Linked DNA regions of Homo sapiens: region 1 is linked to region 2. Evidence: fine-mapped expression QTL. A gene starts in region 2. The other region holds a variant in brackets. All regions are shown on one strand. Distances are from middle to middle.

The links. PIP is the estimated chance that this variant, and not a neighbour inherited with it, causes the effect. A credible set is the group of variants that fine-mapping cannot tell apart.
Region 1: its variant is the best candidate, but not a certain one, in a credible set for the expression of SCGB2B2 in pancreas (GTEx, PIP 0.69).

Annotation. Positions count from the first base shown.
Region 1 is chr19:34,597,847-34,600,752 of GRCh38, reverse strand. All of the region lies in intron 1 of SCGB2B2 (secretoglobin family 2B member 2), which reads left to right. It also overlaps the pseudogene ZNF807P and the pseudogene SCGB1B2P. Among named protein-coding and RNA genes, the nearest start is that of SCGB2B2, 78 kb to the left of the region's middle. The variant T/G (reference allele first, on the strand shown) is at 1,594.
Region 2 is chr19:34,676,133-34,679,019 of GRCh38, reverse strand. It overlaps SCGB2B2 (secretoglobin family 2B member 2), which reads left to right and starts at 1,861. Exons shown (of 4, transcript NM_001025591.4): 1 at 1,861-2,887. ZNF302 (zinc finger protein 302) reads right to left here and starts at 1,342. Exons shown (of 5, transcript NM_001289187.2): 1 at 917-1,342; 2 at 207-283. The coding sequence starts at 215. It also overlaps the pseudogene ZNF807P and the pseudogene SCGB1B2P. RefSeq lists a silencer at 1,094-1,153 and enhancers at 576-1,472, 1,604-1,663, 1,714-1,813, 1,473-2,370.

The DNA of each region.
Region 1 (2,906 bases), 78 kb after region 2:
GCCTACAAATCAGTCAGAGGTGGAAAAAATAGAAAAGAACATGCAATATATAAATGGGAAGAAAGATTCCATTCACATTTCACTAAATGACGAATAAACACATGAAGAGGCCTCAACCTCATTACACCAGAAAATGCAAATGGAAACCACAGTGAGATGCCCCTGACACCTACCTACCAGATGGTTCACACAACACTGACGATACCAGATTGTGGCAATCTAGAGCAGCAGGAAATACTACAGTGTGGCTGGGGAAGTGCATTGTACAACTGCTTTCAAGGTTTCCTGTTTCCTAGGATAGTCAAGAATATGAATGCCTTATCACCTAAAATTCCACACATGGGCACAAACCCCAACAAATGTGAATATAAACGTGTACAAGACATCAACATATGAAAGCTCCCTACAGTGTTGTTCATGATAATAGAATCAGTGTACCAGGGTAGACTTAAACAATGGAGATAACAACATGGATGAATATCAACAACAATGGGGAACAAAAAAGTAAGATACGGGAGAACAGACACATTACGATCCCAGCCATATAAATTGTAAAAGAGCAAAATTAACGTTTACTGTATATGAAGATGTTTAGGTAGAAAAACCATCCACTGAAACAACAAGTTAATGGGTGCAGCACACCAACATGGCACATATGTAACAAACCTGCACGTTGTGTACATGTACCCTAAAACAAAGTATAATAAAAAAAAACCATAAAATCAGGACAGTGGTCTACTCTAGGAGGTGAGGCTGGTGCCTTGAGGGGCTCACAATGATCTTTCTTGAACTGGAGGGCGCATTGTGAGGTTTGCATTACAGTAATCACTTAAGATACACTTTACATGGTGTGTACGTCTCCATACTTGTGTTCTATGTCACAATAAAAAGATGATTAGAGGTCAGGGGAGGAGGGAAAGGGAGAAATGGGAAGTGAAGAAGGGGAGAAATGGAGAAGGAAGAAGAGAGGCAGGAAGACTGAGGAACAGGGGGAAGAGGGAGAGAACAGGGCGGGGAGGAAAAGACAGGAGAGGACAGGGAGGGAAGAGAGGATGGTGATATGGTTTGGCTCCGTGTCCCCACCCAAATCTCATCTTGAATTGTATGCCTATAATTCCCACATGTGTGGGAGGCACCTAGTGAGAGATCATTGATTCATGAGGGATTTTCCCCACACTGTTCTCATGGTAGTGAATAAGTCTCACGAGATCTGATGGTTTGATAAGGGGAAACCTGTCTTGCTTGGCTCTCATTCTGTCTCTTGCTGCCGCCATGTGAGATATGCCTTTCACCTTCCACCGTGATTGTGAGGCCTCCCCAGCCACGTGGAACTTTAAGTCCAATAAACCTCTTTCTTTTGTAAACTGCAGAGTCTCAAGTATGTCTTTATTGGCAGCATGAAAAGAGACTAATACAGATGGGGAGAAGGAGAAAGGGCGAGCTGCACCCATGTGACCTGCCTGCCCCAACTCCTCCACAGCTGGGTCGTCCTCCCCACCCATCCCACTCCTCCACCATAGATCCCTCTGCTGTGGGACTACTCCCTGCTCAGCAGGCTCACCAGCTCCAGGCCCTTCTAGAAAGCCTCATCTC[T/G]CAAAAACCTGTCCCAGAACTCTAAGGTGAACCTACAGTTGAGGGAGCTCCTCTCCCAGTATCAACCTAGCTCCCAATTCCCAGTGCAGGAGAAAAGCAAAGCAGGTGAGCTGGGAGGAGTGCAGGATTTGGGGGCAGGCCATTCTCCAGGTGCCAGCCTGGCCGCAGGGCCAATGGTGCCTGGCAGAGAACCACAGGACTTGGTAAGCAGAGGCCAAGCAGGCCCCAAGGCCAGATTTGAGTGGGAGCCAATGTGGCCACGTGGGCAAGAGGCCTGACTAAACAGCCCAGGAGTCCCATCTACACCACTGGGTCCCTGGAAGATGCTCAAGTTCCCCAAACAACTGGGGATCAGAAGCAGGGGATTAGAGTCACACTTCATCTTAGACACCAGCCCCAGCCCTGTCTCAGCCACAGAGAGGCCAGGGCACGGACCTGTCACAAGGAAGTGATTCCTGCATCACAGCACAGGCTGGAAGCAAGGCAGGAAATGGGGACTGGCAGATGCCACATGCTGTGCCTACAGGGCCACACCCAGCTGCACTCTTGCCCCTACCCTCCCTATCCCAGCAAAGCCATGCCCCATGGTTTTCCCCCTGGGTCCAGACCCCACCACCCCAAAAGCCTGGCTGAGGTGTCCAAAAATCCTCTGCAGGATGCCCAAGTTCCTCAAACAACTGGGGATTAGAGTCCCCTCTAGTGACCTCACCTTGGACAGCAGCCCCAGCCCTATCCTCAGCCCCAAGGACGCCAGGGCATGAGGCTGTCACAAGGAAGTGGGTGGCTCAAGGCCAGTGCCTGTGCCTTGGCTGAGGGACACGGCTCAGGTCGGTTTGCTCCATAATTCCCTAGACCCTACAGACCCCATTCCACGCTCTGCTGCAGCCCAGTGTGCCGCACACTGCTCTGCTGTGCCATGTTGTGTTGTGTCAAGTTGTGCCGTGGCATGTGCTGCGTCACTGTTCCTGCAAACTCCCTGTCCGGGAGCTCTAGGGCCCTGACCTCTGAGAATTCCTAGCCCCGAGTCAGCCTCAGGCAAGGCCTGCATTCTTGCTGCCTCCACTTCCCTGGCTCAGTCTTGCAGCCCCCGCTGACCCCTCTGCCACTCACCTACCACCCATCACCCCCACTTAGAAGCCAGAAAGCAGTGGGAGCAGTCTCCCCGACCCCTCCATTCTCTGCCCCCTCTGCCCCCTCACTCCATTCTCCAGGACTCTCTATCCTAACATGGCTCTTGAAAACGCCCTGACCCACCCACCAGCCCCAGGGCACCTCCTGCCCAGTTGTTTGGCACAAGAGACGCCCCCACACCG
Region 2 (2,887 bases):
AGAAAACTGTAGAAAAGAGGAACACTGGGTGATGAGGACAATACCTTGGAGCTCTCCTGTGGGCTCCATTCTTCCTATAGTGAAAGGAACCATAGATCTAGTCCCTTAAATGGACTTGATTAGGTGGGAACAGGCAGGAGAAGCAAAGCAAACACACAGAGGCCTAATAAAGTGTTTCAGGAAGATTTGGGGACACACCGACTTACCTGAGACATTATTCTGCAATTTCCAATGGCCAACAGAGTCCCCTTTCCAGGTTCTTATCTTAGAGATGGGCAGTGTCCTGAGGGCACAGAAAGGCAGGAAAAAGCAGTCATGAAAAATCGGGCTTATCTTGCGGCACCTGTCACACACCTTAATGGAAAAGCACACTGGTAATCACTCGCCGGAGCGTCAATCTCTCCCTGGGAAGGAACAGGGTGTTTCTCCGCAAGGGCTATTTACCAGGTGCCACCTGCGGGGAAAATCAATTATTCTGTATACAAAAGACTCATAAAACAACGGTAACAACTTTATCAGCTCGTTCAGTCTTCACCACTTTGCAAGGTGTGCATTCATATTATTCCAGATTTTTTTTTTTTTTTTTTTGAGACGGAGTCTCGTTCTGTCTCCAGGCTGGAGTGCAATGGAGCGACCTCGACTCACTGCAACCTCTGCCTCCCGGGTTGAAGCGATTCTCCTACCTCAACCTCTCGAATAGCTGGGATTATAGACACGTGCCACCACGCCCAGCTAATTTTTTTTTGTATTTTTAGTAGAGACGGCGTTTCGCCATGTTCGTTAGGCTGGTGCGGTGGCTTACGCCTTTAATCCCAGCACTTCGGAAGGCGGAGGCGGGCGGATCGCTTGAGGTCGAGTTCTAAACCAGATTTATTTTTTAAAATGAAGACAAAACTGAAATTCCGAGATACTGAACCCATTTGTTCAAGGTTGCACAACTGAAAGCGCCGGCTTCATGACGACATAACCCAAAAAAAACTGTAGCTGGCGTCTGCTCTCGCGCCCACTTCGCTCTCACAACAGTGCCAAGAGGTCGGCGCCGTCATCACCCCGCGTTTACACGGCTCAACAGGAAGGCCAGGAAATGCCCAAGGCCCCGGCCGTGGTCAAACCGCGCGCGGACCCAGGGCCTTAGCCCCGCCGTCGCCGCGACCCACACTTGCCGGAGTCCTCAGCAGGGCCTCACCGTCCCGCAGGCGCCCCGAGCCCGCGCCTCCGCGGACCTGACGCGCCGCGTAGCTGGTGAGCGGGTAACGGCGGCCGACCTCCGGGAACGACACTGCCCCAAACCGTTCCTTAGCTTGGAAGCCGCCGCCAGGCCTGAAGCTATCGCGGGACTGACCCAGTGCACCGCCCACGGCGAACCACATTTCCCAGAATCCTCCCCCTGCGGTACAAATGTCCCGGAAGCCGCGAACCGCCGGCACCCGAAGACCACACTTCCCAAGGGTCTCTGCGGCTGCGCGGACCTGGTGCGCCGCGGGCAAACCGGTCACGGCTTTGTAAGTAGCTTAACCGCCTGGGGCCGTCGACCTAGAGCCGGCCAGCTAGGACCATGCGCAAATTGTCCTGGGGCACACAGTCGTCCTCTGGTGAACGATACAACTCGAAACCAAGGGACACCCTCTACTTATAAGGGCCATGGCGCCCGGACCAAGAAATTACATTTCCCAGAAAACTGCAGCCGTGCCAAGGTCTTCCGGGTCATTCCTGCGCTCACACAAACGTTTCCCTCCGAGACATGGGCAGCCCTTGCTGGTACCGCGCAAGTGCTCGCCGTTGCTAGCAAAGGGGCTCCTCTCATCCCAAACCCTGCCGCTATGCTGTTCACCTTCAGGTCTTTTTTTTTTTTTTTTTTTGGCACTCATTTGCCCAAGACGATAACTCACAAAACGCCCTGTGGCCCGACTGTCACGACTGTAGTTCGCCAACCAAGGGCATTTCCTGGAAATGCAAGGGGACACGTATCTGTGACACTAATGGCCGTTCTGACGTGCGTTACGCCCCTGGAAGGACTTGGAAATACTGAACTTGAGTGAGCACTGGGAGGATGGAGACCCTCATCCTGGGAGGAGTCACTCCTCCCGCAGCCATCACAGCCTGACGCCCCCTCTCCCCAGAAGTGCTTCTTAGGCCCACCCAAAAGGGCAATGGACCTCTCTGTATGCAAGCCAGAGCAGTCTACTGTTTGTGTATATTTGGGTTGTTTACTTTCTTTTTAACACTTAAATGTTAATTGACTTCAATCATTTTTAAAATTATAAATAGTGTCGCTATAGACTTTTTTGTACTTATTAAGTACTGACCTGCATGATCTTCGTGAAGCAGTGCTTCTGTTACCAGAAAGGGGTCCGGATCCGACCCCAAGAGAGAGTTCTTAGAGCTCACGCAAGAAAAAATCCATGGGAGAGCACAGTGCAAAGCCAAAGCAAGTGTATTAAGAAAGTAAAGAAACAATGGGTACTCCATTGTTAGAGCAGCAGCTTGGGCTGCTGGACTAGGGATACTTGTATTTATTGCTTGATGATGTGCTAAACAAGGGTGGATTATTCATGAGTTTTCCAGGAAAGAGGTGGGCAATTTCAATTTCTCGGAGCTGAGGGCTTCCCAGCTTTTTGAACCATACAGGGTAACTTCTGAACCTTACCATGGCATTTGTAAATTGCCATGGCACTGATGAGCGTTTCTCTTAGCGTGCTAATGCATATAATTAGCATATAACCGAGAGGTGAAGCCAGCTGGGCTTCTGGATCAGGTGGGGCCTTGGAGAACTTTTCTGTATAGCTGAAGGATTGTAAATACACCAATCAGTGCTCTGTGTCTAGCTAAAGGTTTGTAAATGCACCAGTCAGCACTCTGTAAAAACGGACCAAACAGCACTCTGTAA